Linked DNA regions of Homo sapiens. The protein of the gene in region 4 interacts with the protein of the main gene of each other region in a biochemical or structural test. Each region holds a gene or a part of one and is shown on either strand. Other genes may lie near its edges. The genes, in order: MAPK8, MAPK3, MAPK1 and ELK1.

What was found.
Region 1: of the proteins of ELK1 (region 4) and MAPK8, one has a biochemical effect on the other in vitro, tested with the Homo sapiens proteins (3 studies listed by BioGRID).
Region 2: of the proteins of ELK1 (region 4) and MAPK3, one has a biochemical effect on the other in vitro, tested with the Homo sapiens proteins (6 studies listed by BioGRID and IntAct, with this or other methods).
Region 3: of the proteins of ELK1 (region 4) and MAPK1, one has a biochemical effect on the other in vitro, tested with the Homo sapiens proteins (16 studies listed by BioGRID and IntAct, with this or other methods).

What each region holds. Positions count from the first base shown.
Region 1 is NC_000010.11:48,421,669-48,428,693, reverse strand, and holds part of MAPK8 (mitogen-activated protein kinase 8), read right to left. Parts: intron 4,607-7,025; coding exon 4,535-4,606; intron 4,181-4,534; coding exon of another isoform or gene 4,109-4,180; intron 2,807-4,108; coding exon 2,624-2,806; intron 2,315-2,623; coding exon 2,190-2,314; intron 1,615-2,189; coding exon 1,551-1,614; intron 1-1,550. UniProt on the Homo sapiens protein: Serine/threonine-protein kinase involved in various processes such as cell proliferation, differentiation, migration, transformation and programmed cell death.
Region 2 is NC_000016.10:30,120,196-30,127,069, forward strand, and holds the start of MAPK3 (mitogen-activated protein kinase 3), read right to left. Parts: upstream 3,026-6,874; 5' UTR 3,015-3,025; coding exon 2,845-3,014; intron 1,812-2,844; coding exon 1,629-1,811; intron 1-1,628.
Region 3 is NC_000022.11:21,787,636-21,794,660, forward strand, and holds part of MAPK1 (mitogen-activated protein kinase 1), read right to left. Parts: intron 1,174-7,025; coding exon 1,059-1,173; intron 754-1,058; coding exon 622-753; intron 1-621. UniProt on the Homo sapiens protein: Serine/threonine kinase which acts as an essential component of the MAP kinase signal transduction pathway. MAPK1/ERK2 and MAPK3/ERK1 are the 2 MAPKs which play an important role in the MAPK/ERK cascade.
Region 4 is NC_000023.11:47,647,559-47,654,988, forward strand, and holds the start of ELK1 (ETS domain-containing protein Elk-1), read right to left. Parts: upstream 3,006-7,430; 5' UTR 2,865-3,005; intron 2,469-2,864; 5' UTR 2,363-2,468; intron 1-2,362. Other genes in the region: protein UXT, read right to left, coding at 4,284-4,337, 4,523-4,586. UniProt on the Homo sapiens protein: Transcription factor that binds to purine-rich DNA sequences. Forms a ternary complex with SRF and the ETS and SRF motifs of the serum response element (SRE) on the promoter region of immediate early genes such as FOS and IER2.

The DNA.
Region 1 (7,025 bases), on a different chromosome or scaffold from region 4:
ATTCAAATGCACATTACATATTCAAATGCAGCAGACTCTATCCAATTTTATCATTTTGTCATTCTTCTAACTTTATCACGGGCTCTGCTAACCATGGGTTTCCCAAAGTTCAGAGAAAACCAATCTCTAAATCTCTTCAATTTCTAAGAAAGAATCAAATTCATGCTTAGCAAAATACATTTATAGATGGGTCACTTATTCATGTTTATACCTCCCCAGTCCCCTTTCCTTTCCCAGGATTTAGAGACAACTCTTAATAACAGGTCTTCTGCCTCTATTTTAAGATGAGGTAAAATGCAGGGGGCAGTGTAGGAGGGTGAGATGAAGGGGGAGTGATTTACTCAAAGTCACGCAGTTACAAAAGTGGTCAAAACACTGAAGGACAATAACACAAATGGAAGTAAACGGGACCTAAAAATTACCTGACCCACATGTCCCAGGGCACCTTTTGAAGAAATATTTGAAAACTTCCATGACTATCAAAGCATGATTAATTTCAGCCACATTCATAAAATAGAATAAAACTACATTAGATTTACAAATATTAAAAATTAACCCATTCTGTAGGCAAGGGTGAGGGCAAAGAGAGACTCCTATATAACATGGACGGAAGTGTACACTACTACCATTTCTTTGGAGAGTAATTTGGAAATAACTGAAAAATATCTTTGGCTCAGAACATCTCCTTCCAGGATTTTTCTTCCAGGCATGTTCTCATATGTGAACATGAATATTGCAGAGTTGTTTCTAACAGCAACAGACTGGACACAATTTAAATGGTCACCAAGAGGGAGATGGATATATAAAGTGTGACATATTCATACAGCAGAACACTAACCAGTTATTAAAGCAAGAGAGGCAGATACGTGAACTAAAAGAGAATAACCTTCCAGATATCTGATTATATCAACAAAGCACTCACGCCTATAATCCCAGCACTTTGGGAGGCCGAGGCGGGTGGATCACGAGGTCAGGAGATCGAGACCATCCTGGCTAACATGGTGAAACCCTGTCTCTACTAAAAATACAAAAAAATTAGCCGGGTGTGATGGCAGGCGCCTGTAGTCCCAGCTACTCAGGAGGCTGAGGCAGGAGAATGGCGTGAACCCGGGAGGCAGAGCTTGCAGTGAGCCGAGATCACACCACTGCACTCCAGCCTGGGTGACAGAGCGAGACTCCAACTCAAAAAAATATATAATAAATAAACAAAGCAAGTACATATAGCATACACCGTACACAACCATACGTGATTTTAAAAGGGTGGAAGAGGAGAGGTGGGAGACACTAAACACATTTGTGTATTCACAAACCATGGAAAAAAATATGAGACAGAGCACTAATGTGTCTGTGTCTGGGGTGGGAAACTTGGGAACTTAAGATTAAGTTAAGGAAGGAAGCAGACTTACTTTCTACTTATGTAAAAATATTAATATTACCACATTTCGGTTATGCATATTAAAGTCACAAATTTCTCTAACATGATAATAAATCACCATATAAAAACCAGAAGCTCCTTCACAGTTTTCCCTCTAAGAATCTGACGAATGTACCTTTCCACTCTTCTATTGTGTGTTCCCTTTCATCTAACTGCTTGTCAGGGATCTTTGGTGGTGGCTGAAAAACACAAGGCAATAATAACCAAGTCAGTATGCTGGGAGTATTTTAACTCTGTAGTTATTTGAAATATTAGCCACACAGATGACTTATAAAAATATATCATTAGATCAAGACTGATCAATCATCAACTTACTTATACAGACATAATAGTTTAGGAAGACTCCTTCATTGCAGGAAATAAAATGTTTAACTGTCTTTTTTCTTTTCTTCTAGCTCTTGAAATTGCCACATTTTATTTATATCACAGATCACAGAATTCTGTTTTCCTTTGGATACAGTAATTTGTTTTATACCTGAGTTAGGATGTTCCCCCAGAGCATTCAACATCCTAGTTCTCTGGTTAGGTATCCAGGCAAGATTGCAAAAAACAGTGGGAGGTAACTTTATTTTGTGTAGGAGGGGCTCGAATATGTTCATTAGTTTATTTGACGTAGTCTTCATGAAGAAACAGAAAAACATCATCATCATGTATCTACATTTTTATTTAAAATTAAAAGGTCTCCTCCAAACCTAACTGTCATTCTAACTCTAAGAATGCAATATGTTCTGTAAACATTAAGAAAATAACTTACAGCTTCTGCTTCAGAAGGATCATACCAGACATTGATGTACGGGTGTTGGAGAGCTTCATCTACAGAGATCCTTTTAGATGCATCTATTACCAGCATTTTGGATAACAAATCCCTTGCCTGACTGGCTGCAAACATAATGGTGTTAATGTACATATATTTGTAAAGATTCTCAAATTATTAATAACTTTCAGCAATTTGAGATTTTTTAAAAAGCATATGTTTTAAAAATATTACTGTAAAATTATCTTATACATATGATTAAAATATATAAGATTAAAGAAAAAAAAAACAAAAACCTCATTTTTTTCCCCACCATCCAGAGAAAACCTTGGGTTCATGTCCCATAAGAATATGAATACATATAAACACACAAACCCATACACACACACTACACACCCCAAATGGGATTAAATGTACATATTTGTAAAAAGTACCTTTAAGTTTGTTGTGTTCTGAGTCAGCTGGGAAAAGGACATCAGGGAAGAGTTTCTCAAAGCTATATCCAGCATATTTAGGTCTGTTTTCAACGTAAGTCCTTACTGTTGGTTGCAGTTTCTTCATGAATTCAGGACATGGTGTTCCAAGCTGTTCAATAACTTTATTCCACTGATCAATATCTAATATCAAGTAGCTAAGAAAAATACTCCATAACTAATGTTCAATACATTAGTCATATTCATATTACAAGAAAATAGAAATTTAAAAATTCCTAAGAAAGGATGTGGCAGTTATAAATTTTATATCTCACAGGCACCCTGCAAAAGGCAATGATTGTAGGTGGACAGAAATGATCAATAAATAAGCTTTATTAACCTTATTTATTGTGTGTTCAAACTAACTGATTTTACCTTAAAATGGAAGCTTAAACTCACAAATTCTAAATAAAATGATAAGCAACTAAGAATAATGACAATTACTATCCATAGTGGCTCTAACTGCAAACTGCACACAATGCTATAATAATATACAAAATTTTTCCTTTTCTGTCAATTTATCAGAAAACATGATTATATCTCCTAGACAATATTTCTAGAACACATCCTGTTTTACTGAGTTTTCTACACTAACAGAAAATAATCAGTTGTAATAAAAATAAAGGCTTCGATAAAAGTGGCATTTTCTTTTGCCATTCTTTGTTTAGCTTAGGTTTAAAAAAATTTTCTAAAGCTCTGACCCTTATAAAAAAGATTCAGTTTTTTGCTAAGTTGTAAGGTTAGGATTTCTTGGTCTCCTTTCCTCTAGTCTTTACACTCCAGGACCCTGAAGGCCAAGGCCTAAAACTCACTTATTGTAACCTTGTGAATATGCCTTTTCCCATTCTTCCTCCTGAAACAATTCTAAGTGTTACTAGCTGGTAAACACATAACAAATCACTGTTAATATAAATATTAAAAGTAGTGGGATGAACAAAAAGTATGAATCCAAAGCTATCGTTACCATACAAAACTACTACTGCTGAAATTCTCAGATGAAAGGGTCAGTATGTTATGTGAGTAATGAGACAACAATCAAAAGACACAAACCACACAGAACATTAACAAAAAGGAGGTAGGGGACAAAACAAAAGGATGGCCAGAAGCAACAGACAGCTCCAAAATTCATATTAAGTTGTACGTATTTCTAGACTTAAGTGTATAATTATTATAAATTTTTAATGCAAGCCATGATTTTTGATTTAGGTTAAATCAACTCAAAGCCAGCAAGTAATTGTGCATAATTACAATTGAGCAGGGTTCAGAATTAACATATGAAACAATAAATAACGGAAGGAAAAGTCTATGTCAAATAGTAGGTGGTATTTTAAGAGTAATTTAACAATATATTAGGGAGAGACAAAATACATTATACCTGACCAAACTGAAGTGCTATCATACATTTTGACCTTTAGAAACTACATTTTAGGCCAAAGATAAGGATACGATCTGTACCTGGGAACAAAACACCACCTTTGATCATTTCTCCCATGATGCACCCAACTGACCAAATGTCAACTGAAAACAAAATGCAATGACATTAACATAAAGATTTTGGTTAAAATAAAAAAAAAAAGAAAGAAATAAAATCACACACACCATGTATACTTTAAAATTATAAAAAGCAGTATAAAATAAAAATGAGTGACAGTGAATGTGCTCTGACTACCAGCAGAGACTGTATGTCCTACTGCCAGATGCAGCCTACAAATATTTCAGCTTCTTATCTCAACAATTTTTGAACTATAATAGCCACAAACTTTATGCCTGTTTAAAAACCCATCTGTGTAAATGTAGCATATTCATTTTCATTAGAGAACATAAAGAAGTTCATCGCCTAACTAATTAACTGCTGCAGCAGCACAAGGATACAGTCCCTTCCTGGAAAGAGGATTTTGTGGCAAACCATTTCTCCCATAATGCACCCCACAGACCATAAATCCACTATATGTTTGCAGCACAAAAGAAGGAAAAGCAAAGCAAAAGGTCATTAAAATCAAAGAAGCATAATATGACTGCATTATATAAAAACTGCAAAACGTCACGAAAAGAAAAAAAGTGATTGTAACTTTAGCTAACGGAATAATTTAAAACACAAATTATTTTTTGAAAGTCTGGTTCACAAAAGAAAATGTAAAGTGTGGCATTTTAACTACATATCTAATTTCAAAGTGAGAGCTATGCACAGAAATTGCATAAATAGAAAAACCCTGCATGTTTGTCCCTGAGAACTTGTTTATAAAATATGAAATAGAACCAAACACAAACTTTGTAAATAAAAATGTACATGAGGTAGTAAAATTATAAAAATAAAATTGTTATACTATACTATTTAGAAGTTCAACTGTGCATTATACTCTCTAAGAAAAAAGCATGAGAAAATAATTCAGCATATTAAAATATCTAACAGAAATAATCTCTATGAATAATTATGATAAAAAAGTTAATCTAAAGCTCTTTGGAATTTTTAAACTGGATTTCCCAAATACATTTAACTGAGAAGTGCTATGCTTGTTCTGAATTAAAAGTCCATTTGTTTTCTTGGCAACATCATGCTACATTTACCCTACTATCCCAAAAGGAACAAGTGCACAGAGAATGAACAACTAATCAAGGAAAACTTAGTAAGAGAAATGTATTTCATGTTTCCTACCTAAAGTTTTTTAAACCCATAAAACCAAACTGCTTTTGGCTTAAGAAGTTAGTTTTGGCTAGATACAGTAAGTCAGTTCCCACGAATTGAGTATGAAGAGTCTCCTGGAAGACTTACTGATGACCCTTGCCAACTGTAAATGGGAATCCCAATCAATGTTGACAAGAATCTGCTAGACACAGAAACAGACAATTTGGAATCTCCACTTACTAAGGGAAACTGACAACACATCGTGGCATTTTATGCCTTTGGGTTTGAACATCACACAAAAAGGAGAGAGTAAGTGCTTGCAGTGTAACAGGAAAAGAGGGAAGAATGAGCAATTTAGAAGGAAAAGCCTTAGAAACTTGCATTTAGTTGTGACATCTGAAGGTCCCAATTCTTTAAAATGACAAGTGGAAAACGGCACAAATAGATGTCAGAAAGACACGTGCCCTTTACTCATGTTAAAGGACTTAGAAAATTAAAGCCTGTACTTTCTAATACAGTACATTCTTATTAAAAGGCTGCCAGTTCACTGAAGAGTCTTAAGAGCTAAACTGGAAATTACTTTTGGAAATACTGTGGAACTAAAGTTTCCCTAAAATGTCATATTAAAATGAATGAATATTTTCATATTTATGTCATGGTTCAGCTTTCAAGGATAAGATTTTAGAAAAAAAATTTAATATTTATAAATTAGTGCCTCAGAGAAAAATTTTTTCTAAGGTTTCCGTTTTTGACAAAAATCTATTAGAATAAATCTTCTCTACAGATTTTATAGAGAATGTTAAACTTTAAATATCCAGCTTACAACTTATTTGGTAACTTTCAGAAAAGCTCATTTTTAAACAAAAGTATTTTGAAAGCTGCAAGCATGAGAGAAGATATTATCTGGGCCAGTGAAGACTAGGAACATAAGTCTGATTCATGCACAACTCTAGCTGTAAACTAACTGCTTAGTCTATTAAGCAGTTAAAAATATATTGATTACACTGCTTTCCAAAATGCTCTGAGTAGCCTGCAATAAAAGGTACATAAAGCAAAGTTGTTAAAATGGGTGGGAGGCCAGGCGTTGTGGCTCAAACTCCTGTAATCCCAGCACTTTGGGAGGCTGAGGCAGGTGGATCACCTAAGGTCAGGAGTTCAAGACCAGCCTGGCCAACATAATGAGACCCTGTCTCTACTAAAAATACAAAAATTAGCCAGGCATGGTGGCACATGCCTATAGTCCCAGCTACTCGTAGGCTGAAGCAGGAGAATGGCTTGAAGCCAGGAGGTGGAGGCTGCAGTGAGCCAAGATGGCATGACTGTACTCCAGCCTGGGCAACAGAGTGAGACTCCATCTCAAAAATAAATAAATAAATAAATAAATAAATAAATAAATAAATAAGATAAATAAAATGAGTGTGAGGTGTCATTAAAAGGAGGAAGTACTTATGTTTAACCTTGCTGGCTAATGTAGTTATAATCATTAAGCATTACATTTGACTCCGTTTCCTAGGGTGGGAGTGGGAAGGCAAGAAGGTGATCTACATAATTCTTAACTAAAGAGGAACCATATGTCAGTTCATTTTTTATTCTATTTTATTTTTTGAGACAGAGTCTTGCTTTGTCGCCCAGGCTGGAATGCAGTGGTGCAATCTCGGCTCACTGTAACCTCCACCTCCCGGGTTCAAGCGATTCTCATGCCTCACCTCCAGAATAGCTGGGATTACAGGTGTGCACCAC
Region 2 (6,874 bases), on a different chromosome or scaffold from region 4:
ACAAGAATCAGCCTTGAAAGGGTCTTCAGAGAATATGTGGACCAGCCCTGCTGTTTTAGGGCTGGGGAGGCCCAGCGAGACGCAGTGACTTGCTTCAGATCACACAGCGAGCTGGGGGTGAGCACGGAGATTTCCTGTCCACAGTTTGTGGTGGGGGTTGCAGACACCTCAGTACAAATCCCCACTCTTGGGTGGAGGGCTGGGACTGAGAGTGGGTGGGTGGGGCAGGGAAGAAGTGACAGGTGTCATAAGTTGCTAAGGAGAGCCAGACAGGAAGTGGACAGCAAACTAGGAAAGCAGTATTGGGGGAGGACAGCCAAGGCTAGGCTGTCCCTCCCTGGGCAAGGTGCAAGTCCACAGGTGATTAGGGTGTGGCTCTGAGTGAGAAGTCCTAAGAAGAAGGACAAGTTCCCATCTGGGGGAGGAGAGGAGGAGACAGCAACAGAAACACTTGATTTTAGGTTTTCTGAGCCTTAGCTTCCTCATCTTTTTTTTTTTTTTTTTTTTTGACAGGGTCACGCTCTGTCCCCCAGGCTAGAGTGCAGTAGCACAATCATAGCTCACTGCAGCCTCGAACTCCTAAGCTCAAGCCATCCTCCTGCCTCAGCCTCCCAAGTAGCTGGGACTATAGTCGTGTACCACCAAACCTGGATAATTTTTAAATTTTTTGTAGAGGTGGGGTCTCACTATGCTGCCCAGGCTGGTCTTGAACTCCTGGCCTCCAGTGATCCTCTGGTCTTAGCCTCCCAAAGTGTTGGGACTACAGATGTGAGCCATTGCACTCCACCCCTCATCTTTGAAATGAAGCTGAAAAGCCCATCTCATAGGGTAGTTGGGAGGTGTAATAGAAAAAAAAAAGCATTGGGCATGTATAGTACCTGACACACAGCAGGCCCTCAAGAAAGGCAGTTTTTTGTTTTTGTTTAGTTTTGAGACAGAGTCTCGCTCTGTCACCCAGGCTGGAGTGCAGTGGCACGATCTTGGCTCACTGCAACCTCCAGCTCCTGGGTTCAAGCGATTCTCCTACCTCTGCCTCCCAAGTAGCTGGGATTACAGGCTTGCACCACCATGCCCCGCTAATTTTTTTGTATTTTTAGTAGAGATGGGGTTTAACCATGTTGGCCAGGCTGGTCTCCAACTACTGACCTCAGGTAATCTCCCACCTCAGCCTCCCAAAGTGCTGGGATTACAGGCGTGAGCCACCACGCCCAGCTGACAGTTTTCTTTCTCCCTGTCTCCCTTCCGGTCTGGGCAAGGAGGAAAGAGAGGAAAGAATCATCCATTCCTTAGCAAGAAGTGACTGTGGGCAGAGGCCAGGTCATGTCTCAGAACTGCCGACGTCAGAAGACACCACTCCCATAGAGACCATCCTGCCTAGCCCTTCCCCCTGGGGCACAGAGCAGAGAACCCACTTGCTCGAGGCCATACTGCCTGGGCCGCTGCAGGCCTGGGTTCATCAGAGGTCTCCAAGTCCTGTTACACTGTGGCTTCCCCTCTGCAGGAAAGTTTATTTTACTGGGTTTGTTTTGGAGGGTGGTGGGTAAGATGGAAACAGAAACCAAGCAACGGGTCCCCAGCCCAGCTGCGAGGCCGTGCCTGACCAGCCGACTGGCCAAGGTGAAGGATACACATCTCTCATGGCTTCCAGGGTGGACGCCCGCAGAATGTCTCGGATGCCGATGACATTCTCATGGCGGAAGCGCAGCAGGATCTGGATCTCCCGGAGCGTGCGCTGGCAGTAGGTCTGATGTTCGAAGGGGCTGATCTTCTTGATGGCCACGCGAGTCTTGCGCACGTGGTCATAGGCCGAGCTGAGGGGACCGGAGAGAGGCTGCTGCTGTGGCCTTACAAAGGGGGAGTCCGGGCCTGGTGGCCCCACCCAGGCCTTGGCAGGGAGGGGAGAGAGCAGGAGCTGGCTCTGGTCAAATCATAAACAATGCTGGTTCCTTCCTGCTGTGGAGGCCTGGGATCTCCAGAGAGAAAGCTGGGGACCAGCCAGGCGGCCCTTCGGTGACTTTACAAACAGAGGAAGAGACTGACCGCTCACTGACTTCCCCTCTCCTCAATCCCCTTCCATTCTACTGGCCCTGAACCCTTCGCCCCCATTCCCAGGAAAGGCTCCTTAACCCAAGACAGGTCCGGGGGTGCAGATGCTGGGGACACACCATGGGGCAAATACTGGGAAGGTGGCAGCCAGGGGAGGGGCAGGAGAGAATGGACAGGGCAGGGGAGGGTCCCAGGGTGAGGGATCCGGGCAGCGGGGCTGTCCCAGAGGGATAGAGGCCCAGAGCACACGGTGGGGCCGGGGGCACTCACAGACCCCTCCCAAAACATGCAGGTGGCACTCCTGGCCGCCTCATCTCTCTCTGGGCCCCTGGGGTGGTGGGGCCAAAGCCCTGCCCCACCCTGATCTCGGCTCTTCTCCCCCAGGCTCCCTGGCACTGCCTCACAGGGGGAATCCAAGACACCCTTTCCCCCAAAACGGGCCCTCCACTGCCTCTTCACTAAGGATGTCGCCTCCCCGAGAGTACTCATCCTCTGGGCCTCGCCCCGTGTCACTAGGGTCCCCGCGGGCCCCCACATGCACTCGGATGCCCCTCCCATCATTACAGAAGGGTGGACTCAAAGCCTCCAAGCCTGCTCCCCTGAGGACGTAGGCAGCGCCCCCTCCCCCAGAAAGCACTCAGGGGCCCCCTCCCTGGGACGCTCCCGATCATCCCGAGTCTCCTGCCTCCTCGGGACGCTCCGCGTCTCCACGTCCCGGAAAGCGCTCGGCGCCTCCTCCTCCTCTCCCGCGAAGCCCCCTCCCCTGAGGGCACCCCCTCCCCCGGAACGCCCCCTCACCTGACCATGCCGTACGCGCCCTCGCCGATGTACTGCAACTGCGTGTAGCGCGGGCCCACGTCGAACGGCTGCCCCTTCACCATCTCCACCTCCCCCGGGACCCCCGGGCCGACCCCCTCGGTTCTACGGGGCTCCCCGCCCCCGCCCCCCTGAGCCGCCGCCGCCGCCATCTCCACTCCTCCCCTCCCACCGCCCTCCTCCCCACGGCGGCCCCGCCCGAGGCCCCGCCCCTTCCCGCCTGCCTGTCACCCGCAGGGCCGCGCGCGCCAGGCCCCGCCCTTGCCCCGGCCCCGCGTGGGCCTGGAGCTGTCACGTGACCCGCCCCGCGCGCGCCCGCCCTTCTTGCCCCAGGTTCGGGGGCCATGGGTCCCTGCGGGCTCCGCGGCCTCCAGGTCACCGGGAGGTTCGGCAGCGCCGCCTCGGAGACTGTCCTCACCCTCCCCTCGATGGCGAAGCGGCCAGGGCGTGACCTACCAGAGCCACCCAGCCAATGTATGCGGCAGCCCACCAGAACCTGGGCCCGGGATCACCCTAGGTTAAAAATAATGTTCTAATAAATGGATCAAATTTTACAGATGGAGAATCTGAGAGTTAGGTTTACTAACTTGGGTAAGGTCACTAGTAGTGACAGCTGAGACTCAAAATGGTGTCTTCTGACACAGAGACTCTTTCTAATTCCATGCCTCTCAGAGTCCTAGACTGTTTTTATTTTATTATAGAGACAGGGTCTCTCTCTGTCGTCCAGGCTGGAGTGTAGTGGTGCAATAATTGCTCACTGCAGCCTCAACCTCCCTGGGGTCAAGTGATCCTCCCACCTCAGCCTCCCAAAGAGCTGGGACTACGAGTGCGCGCCACCACGCCCTGCTAATTAAAAAAAAAAATTGGGGGGCTGGGCACGGTGGCTCACGCCTGTAATCCCAGCACTTTGGGAGGCCGAGGTGGGCAGATCACCTGAGTTTGAGACCAGCCTGACCAACATGGTGAAACCCCGTCTCTACTAAAAATACAAAAATTAGCTGGGCATGGTGGCACGTGCCTGTAATCCAAGCTACTTGGGAGACTGAGGCAGGAGAATCGCTTGAACCCGAGAGGAGGAGGTTGCAGTGAGCTGAGATTGCACCACTTCACTCCAGCCTGGGCGACAGAGCAACACTCCGTCTCAAAAACAAAAAACAAAAAGAAGAAGAGAAAAAGTAGGGTTGCAGAAGGTAGGGACTGAAGAAAGGCATGAAGGAGAAGGATCGGGGTGAGCTGAGGCATAAAGGCAGAAGCATAACTTGTCCAGCATGGCTGCAGTAAAAAAATGATGAGGTTTCAGCCTGGAGAGGTAGGTTGGGGCCAGATTAGGAAGGCTCTGGATTCTGGCAAGGAGTTTGGATGTTACTCAGTAAGCAGTAAAAACCCTAGAGGGACTTTTGCCAGATCATTTTGCAACTGCGGGAGAATATAGTGACTCAGAGAAAACACTATGGAGTTCAGCATGGAGCCAGGTTTGCTGAGTGGGAGTGAGTTTCCCAGCATAGGAAAGGCTGGTGTATCAGAGCTGCAAGCTGCCACCTCCTGCTGCTGGAAGCTCAGTTAGAGTGTGACTGAGATTCCCCTCTAGTGACTGAGGTTGGCATTTCCTTGGAGGACTGGACTGGGATTTGTTCTGGTTCATAGACGCATATTCAACTAATGTAGACTTACCATCTCTTCTGTGCCAGGCACTTTTGGTTTTTTTTTGTTTGTTTGTTTGTTTGTTTTTTTGAGACGGAGTCTTGCTCTATCACCCAGGCAGGAGTGCAAGCTCACTGCAACCCCTACCTCCTGGGTTCAAGTCATTCTCCCACCTCAGCCTCCCAAGTAGCTAGGATTACAGGCGCCAGCCACCACGCCCGGCTAATTTTTGTATTTTTAGTAGAGACGAGGTTTCACCATGTTGGCCAGGCTGGTCTCAAACTCTTGACCTCAGGTGATCCACCCACATTGGCCTCCCAGAGTGCTGAGATTACGGCACCTGGCTTGCCAGGCACTTTTATGTACACTACCTCCTGTAATCCTCACAGCAGCCATATGAAGTAGATACTATTAACATTTAACTGGAAAATGATGCTGGCTGGTCGTGGTGGCTCACCTCTGTGATTCCAGCACTTTGGGAGGCTGAGGCAGGCTGATTGCTTGACCCCAGCAGCTGGAGACCAGCCTGGGCAACATAGTGAGATCCCATCTCTACCAAAAATACAAAAATGAGCTGGGTGTGGTGGCATGCGTCCGTAATCCCAGCTACTTGGGAGGCTGAGGCAGGAGGATCAGTTGAGCCCAGGATGTTGAGGTTGCAGTGAGCTCTGATGGTGCCACTGCACTCCAGCCTGGGTGACAGAGTGAGAGACCCTGCCCCCACCCCCACCCCCCCAAAAAAAGGGACAGAGGGAAAACGATGTGGAAGCTTACGCTCTGTCACCCAGGCTGGAGTGCAGTGGCGCGATCTCAGCTCACTGCAAGCTCCGCCTCCCAGGTTCACGCCATTCTCCTGCCTCAGCCTCCTGAGTAGCTGGGACTGCAGACACCCGCCACCATGCCTGGCTAATTTTTTGTATTTTTAGTAGAGACGGGGTTTCACCGTGTTAGCCAGGATGGTCTCCATCTCCTGACCTCATGATCCACCTGCCTCGGCCTCCCAAAGTGCTAGGAGTACAGGCGTGAGCCACTGTGCCCGGCAGAATTATTTTTCTAGCACAGGGTCTTGCTCTGTTGCCCAGGCTGGAGTGGAGTGTAGTGGCAAGATCATAGGTCACTGCAGGCTCGAACTCTTAGGCTCAACAGATCCTGCCACCATGCCTAGCACACACAACCACGCCTAGCTAATTTTTTTTTTTTGTTTTTGAAACGGAGTCTTGCTCTGTTGCCCAGGCTGGAGTGCAATGGTGCAATCTCAGTTCACTGCAACCTCTGCCTCCCGGGTCTCCTGCCTCAGCCTCCTGAGTAGGTGGAACTACATGCGTGTGCCACCATGCCTGGCTAATTTTTTGTATTTTTATTAGAGAGGGGGTTTCACCGTGTTAGCCAGGATGGTCTCTATCTCCCGACCTCGTGATCCGCCCGTGTCGGCCTCCCAAAGTGCTGAGATTACAGGTGTGAGCCACTGCGCCCAGCATTTTTTTTTTTTTTTTTGAGATGGAGTCTCCCTCTGTGCCCAGGCTGGAATGCAATGGCACAATCTCGGCTCACCTTGACCTCTACTTCCCAGGTCAAGCGATTCTCCTGCCTCAGCCTTACAAGTAGCTGGGATTACCGGCACACGTCACCACGCCTGGCTAATTTTTATATATTTAGTAAAGATGGGGTTTCACCATGTTGGCCACGCAGGTTTCAAACTCCTGACCTCAAGTGATCTGCCCACTTTGGCCTCCCAAAGTGCTGGGATTACAGGTGTGAGCCACCGTGCCTGGCTTGGCTAATTTTTAGAATGTTTGTAGAGAAGGGTTCTAGCTAATGTTGCCCAGTCTGGTCTCAAATTTCTAGGCTCAAGTGATCCTCTCACCTCGGCCTTTCGGAGTGCTAGGATTACAGTCATGAGCCACTTCGGCTGGCTCCAGATTAAATCTTAAACCAGTTATTAGCTTTTTGTGATTTTCAAGGTCTGGCACTTCTTTTTTTCTTTCTTTCTTTCTTTTTTTTTTTTTTTGAGGCAGTGTCATGCTGTGTCGCCCAGGCTGGACTGCAGTGGTGCGGTCATGGCTCACTGCAACCTCTGCCTCTCAGGCTCAAATGATCCTCTCACCTCAACCTTCTGAGTAGCTGGGACCACAAGCATGTGTCACCATGCCCAGCTAATTTTAGTATTTTTGGTAGAGATGGGGTTTCACCGTGTTGCCCAGGCTGGTCTCAAATGATCCGCCCACCTTGGCCTCCCAAAGTGCTGGGATTACAGGCATGAGCCACCATGCCTGGCCTGAAATAGTTATTTATTCTTCTTATTATTAGTAGTAGTATTCTGGTCTTTCATGACCGTAGACTTTTGAAGATTATAGGTCAGTTATTTTGTAGA
Region 3 (7,025 bases), on a different chromosome or scaffold from region 4:
AAGTGACAAGATGAAAAGGTGTAATTTGTTTGCAGGGTCCTAGACTTCCTGAGACCTAAAAATGTGACCTTAGGCTGAACGCTGTGGCTCACGCCTGTAATCCCAGTTTTGGGAGGCCAAGGTGGGCAGATCAAAAGGTCAGGAGTTCGAGACCAGCCTGGCCAGCATGGTGAAACCCTGTCTCTACTAAAAATACAAAAATGAGCCAGGCGTGGTGGTACGCGTCTGTAGTCCCAGTTACTTGGGAGGCTGAGGCAGAAGAATCGCTTGAACCCGGGAGGAGGAGGTTGCAGTGAGCCGAGATCGGGCCACTACACTCCAGCCTGGGCGACAGAGTGAGACACTGTCTCAAACAAAAACAAAAAAAAAGTGACCTTAATGCAAATTAAAATTAGCAAAGAAACCAAAAGGTGGAGAACTAGACCGTCATTACCAGGTTCCCTTACTGCACTGCCACTGTTTCCAAAAAAAAAAAGGGGGAAGACAACAATTCAGAGTGAGCACTAAAGAAAGCATTATCCAATAGCCATAGGCTCATTTTTCAGGCTAGTGACCTAACAATTTAACAAATAAACGCGAAGCTAAGCCTAAGAAAAAACTAATCAACGAAATAACATTTACCTTTGGAGTCAGCATTTGGGAACAGCCTGTTCCATGGCACCTTATTTTTGTGTGGAAGAGAAAGCAAATAGTTCCTAGCTTTTAAATTTATTATACAATTCAGGTCTTCTTGTGATGGGGATCCAAGAATACCTATCAGATAAAAAAATTAGCTATTAGTTATCAGGACCAAGGTAAATGACTACACACCATCAACTCTGAGTCGGAATGAACCCTGATAATTGATATGAGCCGTTGCTTATCACCACTCCTGATGTTTACCTTTCTTATGTTTTTACACAAAAGTCCTTAACATTTTAAATCAGAGAAGGTTAAAAATTCACACCTACCACAGGTTAAAGAGTATATTAGAACTCTTCTTAATTTAATGAAGTGACTTTGATGTAAGCTGTACAAACTTGAGTAAATCTAGCTCCTGAAGGGCTCGGGAACCTTACCCAAAATGTGGTTCAGCTGGTCAAGATAATGCTTCCCTGGAAAGATGGGCCTGTTAGAAAGCATTTCTGCCAGAATGCAGCCTACAGACCAAATATCAATGGACTTGGTGTAGCCCTGCAGGAGAAAGAGAGAAAAGACTGAAAATGGTATCTGGTGTTACAGGACATGATGAGATCTTCCTGTATGACAGGTGCATTGCTGATGGGACTCTGAACTTCTCCTTTGACTCTACAATTCAGAAATACAAGTAAACAACATGGAAAAGCAAAAAACAATTTGGCTTTCTTATGAGAGGCTGAACAACCAAGATTATGTGATTTTATTTTTCTCTTCATAGTTGATTAACTTGGGCTGGGCACAGTGGCTAATGCCTGTAATCCCAGCACTTTGGGAGGCCGAGGCGGGCGGATCACTTGAGGCCAGGAGTTTGAGACTAGCCTGGCCAACATGGTGAAACCCCATCTCTACTAAAAATACAAAAAAATTAGCCGGGCATGGTAGTGGGTGCCCGTAATCCCAGCTACGTGGGAGGCTGAGGCAGGAGAATTGCTTGAACCCAGGAGGCAGAGGTTGCAGTGAGCCAAGATCGTGCCACTGCACTCCAGCCTGGGTGACAGAGCGAGACTCTGTCTCAAAACAACAACAAACCCACAAAGTTGATTAACTTATTAAATTAGAATTTCCAAAGTATACATCCGTCCTTTTTTGAAACAATTTGAGAGACAGATTTAGAATTGTCATAAATTGGAGCTGGAAAAAGAAAAAAGGTCTAAAAACCTTTTCTGGGTTTGGGGGAGTGTGTGCTAGCTCCATCATATTTTACCAATCTCTTCTAAAATATTCTCAGCTGGGCATGGTGGCTCACGTCTGTAATCCCAGCACTTTGGGATGCCGAGACGGGCGAATCACCTGATGTCAGAAGTTCAAGATCAGCCTGGCCAACATAGTGAAACCCTGTCTCTACTAAAACTACAAAAATTAGCCGGGCGTGGTGGTGGGCACCCATAGTTCCAGCTACTTGGGAGGCAGAGGCAGGAGAATTGCTTGAACCTAGGAGGCAGAGGTTGCAGTGAGCCGAGATTGCACCACTGCACTCCAGCCTGGGCAACACAGGGAGACTCCATCTCCAAAAATAACATAACATAACATATAACATAACATAACATAACATAACATAACATAACATAACATAACATAAACATAACATAAAACATAACATAACATATAACATAACATAACAAATAAAATAAAATAAAAGAATTCTCATCTTCTTTTCCTATTCATTTTTCAGGAATATGTTTTCTTTTAAAGGAATCCTGTTAGAAGTCATGGGAGGATACTTTGGGAGGCTGAGGTGGGAGTACTGCTTGAGGCCAGGAGTTTGAGGCTGCAGTGAACTATGACTGCAGTTGCACTGTTACACTCCTAATAGCAGCATGTGAAAGAAAATGCATTTCCTCATGTCCTCAACAACACTGGGTATTAACTAATTATTATTATTATTATCATTATTATTATTATTTTGCCACACATGGTGGCTCACACCTGCAGTCCCAGCTACTCGGGAGGCTGAGGTGGGAGGATCACTTAAGCCCAGGGATTGGAGGCTGCAGTGAGCTGTGACCGAGCCAATGCATTCCAGCCTGGGTGACAGAGTGAGACCCTTTCTCTAAAAATTAAAAAAAAAAAAAAAAAATCATGGAAGGATTCTGTCTGAATCATAACAATGGTGCAAAAAAGATGTTTCTCCAAGGAATATAAGCTGACTCTTTTAAAATTAAGAGATGGTGTCATCACTCTGTCACTCAGGCTGAAGTGCAATGGTGTAATCATGCCTCACTGCAAATTCAACTTCCTTGTCTCAGGTGATCCTCTCACCTCAGCCAGGTCCTGAGTAGCTGGCACTACTGAGTAGCTGGCACACAGTAGGTGGGCCACAGGCATACACCACCACACCTGGTTGATTTTTAAATTTTTTGTAGAGAAGGGGTCCCACTATTTGCCCAGGCTGGTTTCAAACTCCTGGGCTCAAATGATCCTCCTGCCTCAGCCTCCCAAAGAGCTGGGATTACGGCATGAGGCACCATACCTGGCTCCAGAAGTGCCTTCTAATACAATGAAGTGCTTTTCTGGTATTCATGTTAAAAATGCATGACCCAAAACTGAGGGGCATTCTACAAAATAGCTCATCTGCACTCTTAAAGGAGACTAAAGAAACACAACAACCTGTCTCTATGAAAAGCACAAAAATAAATAAGTAAATCAGCCATGAGCAGTAGCACGTGCCTGTAGTCTCAGATACTTGGGAGGCTAAGGTGGGAGGATGGCCTTGAGCCCAGGAGGCGGAGGTTGCAGTGAGCCGAGATGGTGCCACGGTACCCCAGCCTGGGTGACAGAATGAGAACCCGTCCTTTTTTTTTGAGACGGAGTCTTGCTTTGTCACCCAGGCTGGAGTGCAATGGCACGATCTCAGCTCATGCAACCTCCACCTCCTGGGTTCAAGCGATTCTCCTGCCTCAGCCTCCTGAGTAGCTGGGATCACAGGTGCCTGCCACTATGTCCAGCTAAATTTTTTGTATTTTTAGCAGAGACAGGGTTTTGCCATGTTGGCCAGGCTGATCTCGAACTCCTGACCCCATGTGATTCACCCACCTTGGCCTCCCAGAGTGCTGGGATTACAGGTGTGAGCCACTGTGGCTGGCCTGCGAACCTGGTCTTAAAACAAGCAAGCAAACAAGCAAACAAACAAAACTCATGACAGTACAACATGTGAACCTGTGCCCAGGTCGGGGGGTGGTTTGGGTGGGGTATAGTTCAAAGGTTATTGGGATAATATCTAAAATGTGAATATAAACTGTGCATTAGATACTGAATCAGTATTAAGTTTCTTGATTTTGAAAACTGTACTGTGGTCATGTTAGAGAATACTCTTAAGGCAGGGTTTTTCAACCTCGGTATGACTAACATTTTGGGCTGAGAAAGTTTCTGTTTGGAGGGCTGTTCTGTATATCGTAGGATTTTTAGCAGCATCTCTGGCCTCTTGATGCAGGGAGTACCCCTACCCCTCACTGTGACAACCCTGCCACATGTCCCCAGGGAACAACAGGACCATGGTTTGAAGTAAAGACATACTGAAACAAGGTGAAGGGGTGTATCTACAATTTACTCTCAAATGACTCAGAGTGCGTGGGAGTGCCCACACACATGCACACAAAGAATGATAAAGCAAATGGGGCAAAAGATAAAAAATCGGTGAGCCTGAATCTGGGGTAAAGGGTATTTAGGAGTTCTATCTGGCGGTTCTACAAGAGTGTTCCAGAGACTCCTATGGGTTCCCTCTAGAGGATCTGAGAGGTCACAGTACATTTATTATACTACTATGACATTTTCATCCTTTTCAGTCACGAGTGAAAAGAAGATTTTTCCAGATGCAATATGATGAGTGATGATGTGTACATGAAAATGTGACACTTGGAATATCTGTGTAACTCAGTGAACCAGTATTTTCCAAATACGCTAAAAAATCATGCATGAGTATGAGTGCAAGGTAGACTAATGGATTTTAACGAAATAGTATCAAGAATTCACTGATATGATTTCAGATTCCACACTGCAATTAACCTTTAAGAAACCACCACTTGTTTAAACTGGGGGTAGGATCAAAGAATAGCCACAAGTGGCTGAAAAGACTACTAAAATTTCCCTCCTTTTTCCAGCTACATACCTGTGTGAAGAGTTTTCCTCTGGCCATACCACCCTGAACACGCCCGATCTTGTCTGATCTCGGAAGCTAAGCAGGGTTGGCCTGGTTAGTGCTTGGATGGGAGGAATAGATCTTGAATTTCATAAATAGCACTCAGACATCTATTTTTAGGCTTATTTGTAAATGTCTTGATAAAATGTCTGATTACTGTTACATACTAGGGAAAAATCTCACTTTTTTGTGTGTTATGCTTTTAAGCATAGATTTTGTTTGCTAAAATGTTATTTAGAATTTTGCATGTATTTTTCACTGGCTTGCGATTTTTCTTTTTATATAACATCTTTTTTAAAGGGTCTTTATTAATATTGCACTCAAGTTTTCTTCTGTTTTCTATGCTCTGAATTCAAGCAGTTAAAATCCATGGGAAAGAGTTTTCCTTGACATTTTTGAAGAACTATGCATGTAATATTATATTGATTATTAAATTGATTAAAGCCTGAAAAAAAAAAAAAAAAGAGTTTTCCTCATGAACTTAAACCAAAACAACATATTTGACAGACTGAATGCAGAACCAGATGAGAATCCAACTGTCTTCTATTAAGCCAGACATTAAAGAGACTTGCAAAAATGAAAACAATGCCACTCTTCTCACTAAAAGGTTGTTTTTCGTTTTGCTTTTTTTAAAGACAGGGTCTCACCCTGTTGCCCAGGCTGGAGTGCAGTGGCGTGATCACGGTACACCGCAGCCTCAATTTCCTGGGCTCAAGAAAATCTCCCATCTCAGCCTCTTGAGTGGCTGGAACTATAGGTGCACACCACCATGCCCAGCTGATTTTAAAATTTTTTGTACAGATGGCAGGGCACAGCAGCTCACACCTGTAATCCCAGCACTTTGGAAGGCCGAGGCAGGTGGACCACAAGGTCAGGAGGTTGAGCCCATCCTGGCTAACATGGTTAAAACCCTGTCTCTACTAAAAATACAAAAAAATTAGCCAGGCGTGGTGGCGGACGCCTGTAGTCCCAGCTACTCGGGAGGCTGAGGCAGGAGAATGGCGTGAACCTGGGAGGCGGACCTTGCAGTGAGCTGAGATCACACCACTGCACTCCAGCCTGGGTGACAGAGCACGACTCCGTCTCAAAAAATAAATAAATAAATAAATAAATTTCTTTTTTGTACAGAGTCTCACTATGTCACCAGGGCTGGTTCCAAACTCCTGGTGATCCTCCTGCATTGGCCTTCCAAAGTGTTGGGATTATAGGTGAGAGCCATCATGCCTGGCCTCACTAAAACGTTTTTATTGTAGAAAATAAACTTATTCTTAAGAAAAACATGTAATTTATCTTAACATGTAGTGGGTTTACTATTTAAAAATTAATTAATACATTTTAAAGTTTCATATTGTAGGCCGGGTGTGGTGGCTCATGCCTGTAACCCCAGCACTTTGGGAAGCCGAGGCGGGTGGATCACCTGAAGTCAGAAGTTCAAGAGCAGCCTGGCCAACATGGTGAAACCCCATCTGTACTAAAAAATACAAAAATTAGCCGGGCATGGTGGTACACACTTGTAGTCTCAGCTACACGGGAGGCGAGGCCGGAGAATCATTTGAACCCGGGAGGCAGAGGTCGCAGTGAGCCAAGATTGAGCCATTGCACTCAAGCCTGGGGGACAAGCGCCAGACTTCTCTCCAAAAATTAAAAAAAAAAAAGTTTCATATTGTAAATAACAATAGATATAACCTACGTAACTAAAAAAAGGTGTGTGGGTCCTTGACTTTTTTTTTTTTTTTGAGACAGAGTCTCACTCTGTCACCCAGGCTGGAGTACTGTGGCAAGATCTCGGCTCACTGCAACCTCCACCTCCCAGGTTCAAGCGATTCTCCTGCCTCAGCCTCCAAGTAGCTGGGATTACAGGTGTGTGCCACCATGCCCAGTGCATTTTTTGTATTTTTAGTAGAGACAGGGTTTCTCCATGTTGGCCAGGCTGGTCTCGAACTCCTGGGCTCAACTGATCCACCCGCCTCGGCCTCCCAAAGTGCTAGGATTATAAGTGTGAGCCACCATGCCCAGCTGGTCCTTGATAATTTTTAACAAATGTAAAGGGATCTTGGCTGGGCGCAGTGGGTCATGCCTGCAATCCTAGCAATTTGGGAGGCTGAGGTGGGTGGATCAGTTGAGCCCAGGAGTTTGAGACCAGCCTGGCCAACATGGCAAAACCCTGTCCCTACAAAAACATACAAAAATTAGCCGGGCATGGTGGTACACG
Region 4 (7,430 bases):
CACAAGGGGCTCAGTAAAGGTTGGTTGCAGGAACAGTCCCAACTAATTAGCTCTCATATCCCTTCTTCTTCCTCATGTGACCCCTACACTGGTGTCTCAAATTATCTTTTTCCCATTTATTCATGGGATAAATTCTTATTGAGCATCTGCTGTTTACCTGGTACATTTTCAGTTGCTGGAGACATAGCGGTGAATGAGCAGACAAAAACTGAGTCCTCATGGGACTCACATTCTAATGAGGAGAGACAGACAACAAACAAGTAACCCACACAGTGTGTCAGACAGTGATAAAGGGCAACGGGACAAATCAGGGACCTGGCTTGAGCCCTGCTGGGTGTGCAGCTTCAGATGGTCAGGGAGGGGTTGACTTTTTTTGTTTTTACAAGTAGCATTGTTAGGAACTTCTTTTTTATACATGTGCCTTTGTATAGTATATTCTAAGTACCATGGTGTGACAATCAACCTTTAATGAAATAACACTACCCAGGTACAACAAAATCAAATCACTCTTAGAAACATCTTTTACGCCTGTGCCTTTAAGAGAGTGTATTACACACACCACAGTGGTTGTTTTTTGGGTTTTTTTTTTTCAGAAAAAGGGATCTCGCTATATTGCCCAGGCTGGCCTGGAACTCCTGGGCTCAAGCTATCCTCCCACCTCAGCCTCCCGAGTAGCTGGGACTATAAGTGCACACCCCTGTGCCCAGCTACACACCACAGTTTTGTGAACACATTCTTTCAATGCAACAACACAGTCCTTATTCACATATACAACTAGCACTCTTAGAAACAGCTTTTATACCTATGCCTTTACAGAGCATATTACGTACCTCAGTCTTGTGAACACATCCTTTTGAAAAGGAGGAAAACCCTTACTCATATATAAACTGGCATTCTTAGAAACATCTTTCATACATGTATCTTTTTATACTGCATTCCACACACCACAGTGTGGTAAACATCCTTTGGGGGTTGGTATTTGAACAGAGTGCTGAAAGGAACCATGCAGAGATCTGGGGGTGGTGTTCAAGGCACAAAGAACAGCCAATGCAAAGGCCCTGAGGCTGGCCCATGCCTGCTATGTTTGAGGAGCTGTGTGGTGGAACCAGTGTGGTTGGAGCACAGTAAGGGGGTGGGAAGGTATAGGCGGTAATGCTAGAAAGGTTACTTGTTTTACCATTAATTCACAGTTAATATTTATTTACACTGGAAGGGATTCTAGTTCTGATCCCCCATTTCACAAATGAAGAAAAAGGCACAGAGAGGAAGTGGTTAAATCACTCATCTAAGGTCACACAGCTGCTGGGATTGGGGGGTGGGTGGGTGCTGAGAGAAGGTGAGGAATGAAGACTGCTCTGCAGGCAGAGGGAACAGCAAGAACAAAAGCTTGGAGGTGAGAACTAATTTGGTTTTTAAGGACTGAGGCCTCACGTGGGGTGGGATGAGATCTAAGAGGGGAGCCTCAAAAATTATCCTGTGTCCTGAGTACTTCCTGGGCCACCTTTGAGTAAGGAATTTAACCTCCCTATGGCCCAATTCCCTCACTACCTATCTCATGGGGTTGTGGTGAGGATTAAAGGAACTCATTCATATGAAACACTCTGCCTGATATACGGCAGGTGCTCAATAAACGCTAGCTCCTATTGGCATTACTATCATCACTGGCGCTAATGTATTCACTTATTGTAGTGAGGCAGAACGTCTTTGTGGTTACGAGTGTGACCAGGCTGACCCACTATTAAGAGGTGGAGGACAGGGAAGGCCGTACAGTGCTCCATCACAAGGAAAAGAGGATCAGCACGTTCTCTTCTGGGAAGGGAAAAAAAAAGAGAAGGAAATTGAAAGTACACGGCCGATCTTCCCCCAATTACAAAGCACTGGACTCACGGGAGGGTATGCGGGGGACTGTGCAAGCATACAGGGGTGTGGGGGAGGAAGGCCAATGAACAGATCCACTGCAAAGGGAGGGGTGATGAGGCTCATCGTCTGAGGGGAAGGGGAGCAGAAAACCTTACAGACTCCTGCACCACAGTGAGAGGAGAGAAAAGCCATCACACAGACTGATTCAAAGCAGAGAGGGAAAAGGCTATGGACTGAGCTACTGAAAATAGGGAGATGTAAAGCACTAAACTAACCCACTATTAAAAAGGAGAGAACCCCAAGCGCTAGAGCGACAGTCTACGAAAAAGAGGAGACAGGGCAATGGACTGATAGCTAAAGGGACGTGAATCCAAACATGAAGACTGATCCACTATAAAATGGTGGTGGTGGTGGTGGGGGGGGGGGGTGGTTTTGAAAAAAGCCATGGACTGATGCATTGGGGGACTGGAGGAGGCAGGAATACAAACTCAGGTAGACTCACTGTTAAAGAGGGATGCGGAGGAGTGCGGCGCCACGGATTGATTCGCTACGATGTACAGGAAGGGTGGAATAAATAAGGCCACGGACGGGTCTCCTGAAAGTTGAGGCTAGGAGAAATCCAAACACTCAGATACACCTACTATTAAGGGGGCTGAACACTGTCACAGGCTAGCTCCCTATAAGTGGGGGTGGGTGGGGGGCGGGTGGGGGTAGGGGTAGGGGGAAAGCCTATGGACGAGTCCACCCTAAGTTGGCGTGGGGAAAAACATAAGCACGCAGACCGATCCATTATACAACGGGAGGGGGAGGTTAGGCCACGGTCAGATCCACTATAAGGGACGAAGGGCTTGAGCAATGCCACACGCAGGTCCACCAGCCGTGGTGGTGGCGGCGGGGAGTCGAACACCAGCAGGCCACCGGCCAAGCCACATCCTCTGCGCGGGGGCGGGAAGGATACGTGGGGTCACGGACTGGGCCCTCCACCCTCCAGGCCCAGAGCTCACCTGTGTGTAGCGTGGCGGTGGCGTTGGCAATGTTGGCAGCTCCGGGGGGCGGGGGCTCCATACGCGGCCCCACCGCCCCCCAGGCCTGGGTTCCGAGGCGGCGGTGGAGGTGGTGGTGGCGGTGGCGGCGGCAGCACCTAGAAGCCGCCCCTGCGTTTCCCTACAGCTCACGTGGGCCCGAGGAGGAGGAGCCCAATGTCCCGCCGCTCGCTGATTGGCCAAAGCGCTATTAATCGGCCGCAAGGCCTCGAGGGGTTGGGGGACGGGCCCTTCCCTACAGAGCTGTGCCGTGATTGGCGTAAGGGGAAATGATGGAACGCTCACGGCCCCTGGAGTCCCGAGGAGGCGCGTTCGGCCTTCACGGTGCTCCACGCCGATTGGCTCAAGGACTGACGGACTGTGAGCAACTGAAAAGGCTCGGGGCCTGTGTCGGGGGGGCGGGGGTCTGCCTCACACTGATTGGCTTACATGGGATTGATGGAAGACAGCCCCCAAGGACGGGGGTGGGTGGCCCTGTTTTTCTCTGATTGGCGGACGAGGGACTTCTAGACCCCTGCCAAAACACCAAGGGGGCGGTGTCGCACGCCATGCTGCTCAGCGGAAGCAGGGCTTGTATAGAAATGGGCGTAGCAGCCGGCGGGAGTGGGTCGGACTGGGCTCCGCGTAGGCGGGCAGGGCAGCTCTACGGTTAGACAAGACCATAGAGCTGGGTAAAGACGAATTTAGAACACAGCGGAGGTAGGAGGGCAGGATGGCTGTCAGGCACACGAAAGAGCATTGAGTGGCAGAAACGAAATGCTTTCAGAGGGCAGGGTTGAACTGCGGCCAGAGTTAAAAAGGGGAGGAACCTGGCTCTGCATTGATTGGCGGTGGCTGGACTCAACCTAGAATAGGGGCCCGACTAGGGAGAGCGGGATCCAGGTCTGTGCCCATTGGAAGCTGGAACACTTACAAGCAGGGGCTAAGACAAGGTAGGGCTGAGTTAGGGTTTGGGTGTAATTTGGGGTACCTGGGGAATGATTGGGTGTGTGAAAGCGTAAACCTTAGGGCCCTTTGATTGTTGTGGGAATGAACAAACCTCCACCATGAATTGGCCCATTCTCTATGGCAATTCAAAGGGTGGCGTCTAGGAAAAGGAATGGAAGAAAGGGTGAGGTGGGGGGCCCAGGTTGCCAAGATGACAGAAGAGAGGGCAGTGCATAAGGTCAACTGGCAAATACTGCCAGGCAACAGGCTGGAGGCAGGACTGCTGGGGCATTTTGGAGGTTCCACAGAGAGACTGGATCTCTGGGTCTCTCAGTAACTTTGTGCCCTAGGAACAGGCCCCCGTGGCAACTAGCAGGGTTTATGGGGAAAAAGAAGGGCCATGTGACTCAAAGGCATTCAGGCTCTTTAATGTCTGAGGATGGGGGGAAGAAGTCAATGGTGAGGCTTCTCTGGGAAATTCTGCAGGCCTTGTAGTTCTCTAAGCCCCTGAAAAAGAGGACAGAAGAGATTGAACAAAGACTGGGTCTGGGTTACGCCCCCAGGCTTGCTCTGACCTCCCTCCCTTGACTCCAGTTTAGAGGGAAAGATGGTCCTTCCCTTCTTTCGCTCTCTTCCTTCTTCAGGTCACCACCCTAAACACAGAGTCTGGTAGTGGGGTGAGCTGCTCTCACCTCTAGCAACATGTGGATATGGGCTTTGATATTCATGGAGTCCTTGGTGAGGCTGTTGCTGAGCCTAGAGAAAAGAAACAAGAAAGGGCAAAATGGGCCCCACATGATTATGATGACCCTTCCTTATCACTTCAAGATCTACTTATATCCTGGATGATTTCCACCTGGCTCATTCCTATGTGGAAATGCCAAGCCACCATCTGGTTTTCACTGATTCAAAGATTATTAAATGCCTACTGTATGCCAGGCAATTTTAGGCACTGGGAGATAGCAGCAAACACAACAAACAAAACTCCCGGCCTGATGGACTTCAAATTCTTGTAAAGAAAGACATAACAAAAAACCAATGGAATAAAAGCTATGTGTCAGATGGTTCTAACTACAATAACAAAAATTAAAAATGAGAGACAATAAGGAGTACAGGAGTGGGGGGCTGCAATTTTAAAGAGGGCTCAGGGATGGCTTCACGGAGAAGCATTTGAGTAAAGACTTAAAGACAGTGAATTTTGAGTAGTGTGGCTATATGGAGGATGTGTTCCACACACAAGGGGCAGCAAACACAAAGGCACTGAGGTGGGAGTGTGCCTGGCATGTTTGAGGTGCAGCAAAGAGGCCACTCTGGCTGGAGAAGAATAAGTGAAGGGGGAATGTAAGAGGTGAGGTCAGAGAGGTAATGAGGGAGACAAACTGTGTGAAGCCTACAAGGCCATGGTAAGGACCCTGGCTTTGACCTTAAGTGAGATGGGAGCCAAGGGAAGGTTGCAGCAGAGGAAGGAGGTTGAATTACATGAACCAGTCAGTTGACTCCTTTTCTCTAAGCCAGTTTGGATCAGATCTCGCCCAAAAGAATCCTAATTGATATAAAGGGTCAAGGAAGGCCTTTCTCAAGAATGAAGAATGAGAAGGAATCGAAGAATGCCTAATGGTTAAGCAGTAGGAAGGCCTTTTCCACAAAAAGGACAAGAGGCAACAAAGAGCTGTTTGAGAAGCAGTGAGGTCAGAGTGTTAGAAATTGAGTGGGGAGGGAAAGTGGCCTAAGACAAGGTCCAAGAGATAGGAAGAGGTTAGATCACACAGGGTCTTAATATAATAAGGAATGTGGATTTTATTGTGCTGTCAATGTAGGAGTCAGTTTGAGGGGTAAATGAAACTAAATACTGTTGGAAAAGCAGAGAGCAATAAGATAGGATGTTAAATTGGAAAAAAAAGTAGTATGAACCCATGTATATACCAATATCTCCCACATTTTTATTTCTAGCCCAGAACTCTCTCCTGAACTTGACTAGTTTTAATGACATCTTCTAAAAATCCACTTCAGTGTTTAATAAGTGCCTCATACTTAACAGGTTCCAGACTAAATTCCTGACCTTCCCCTCCAAATCTACTCCTCCCCTAACTTCTCCATCTCAGATAATGGCAACTCCATCCCTCCAGTTGCTCAGCCAAAAACCTGGGCTCCTCTCTCTCACACTTCACATCCAGTCAGCCATTCTTCTTAAAATCATGACTGTTCCATTGCAGGTAATGCTTCTGATCTCCATGATATGCTTTCTCCATAGCACTGTCAACATCTGACATACTACATCATTCATTTGTTTATTGTTTGTCTCCCCTGACTAGAATGTCAGCTGTATGAGGGCAGATTTTGTTTTTTTTTGTTTCCTGCTCTATCCCCAGGGACCAGAACAGTGTGTGGCACAGAGGAGGCACCCAACGTATGTTGAATGAATAAGTGACTACTCCATTAAAAGGAACCTGAGGTTGGCTGAGTGTATGTTTAGGGACAGGAAATAAATGAAGTATGGGTGTTGTTGCCAGAGAGCAAGAATACTTTCAAGAATATTCTGGGGGTAATGCTTAAAGAACAGAAGAATGAACCTGATCAGCTCCTAAGGGACAATTTTAACATCAAAAAAGAGAACAAAATTAGTTAATGGTGTAAGCTTACCTTATGAAAACCTATGAGTTCAACACTTTAAAAGGGAGAAAAATACAGAGTTCACCAAATGCTAGCTGTAACACAAAAGGGATATGTTTATTACTGCTGATTTATTTTTATTTGCTATGTGAGAAGCAAATTACTACTGATTTAGTATGTAAGGCAGTGTGAATAGTCATATGGTTATGCTTTTTTTTTTTTTTTTGAGATGGAGTCTCACTGTGTCGCCCAGGCTGGAGTGCAGTGGCGTGATCTCGGCTCACTGCAACCTCCACCCTCCGAGTTCAAGCGATTCTCCTGCCTCAGCCTCCTAAGTAGCTGGGATTACAGGCGCCTGCCACCGTTCCCGGCTAATTTTTTGTATTTTTAGTAGAGACGGGGTTTCACTATCTTGGACAGGCTGGTCTTGAACTCCTGACCTCGTGATCCACCCACCTCGGCCTCCCAAAGTGCTGGGATTACAGGTGTGAGCCACCGCGCCCGGCCGTTAGGCTGTTTCTTCTATAATTACATGTCTATTCATGAGATGTGGATGTGTACTCCTTTCTGTGTCATCAGGAAAGAATATAGAGATTTCATCCCTTCCACTTCCCAAACAAAGAAATATACTAAGAACAGGAAGAACTGACACTTTTGATCACATAAAATGACCAGAAAGTTAGTTCAAAGTATATCCCAAGTAACCAAATATTTTTAAAGGACAGCCAGCTACATAGACTCAAATCTTCATCTCTTAGAAAAATTAAACTTCTAGACAGTCCTACTAATTACAATAAAGCAGTAAGACTCAACCATATTTTTCATCACACTAACAGACCAGGTCAGTACATCAAAAAGACCAGGCAAGGGGGCAGGCACTGACAATTTAAATACTTCATTTTGGGGAAGTACGTGGAGTCTCAAAACATTAAAATCTATTTGATAGGCTCAGGAATCCTGTGACATAACAAGGAAAGCCTTCTTATACAA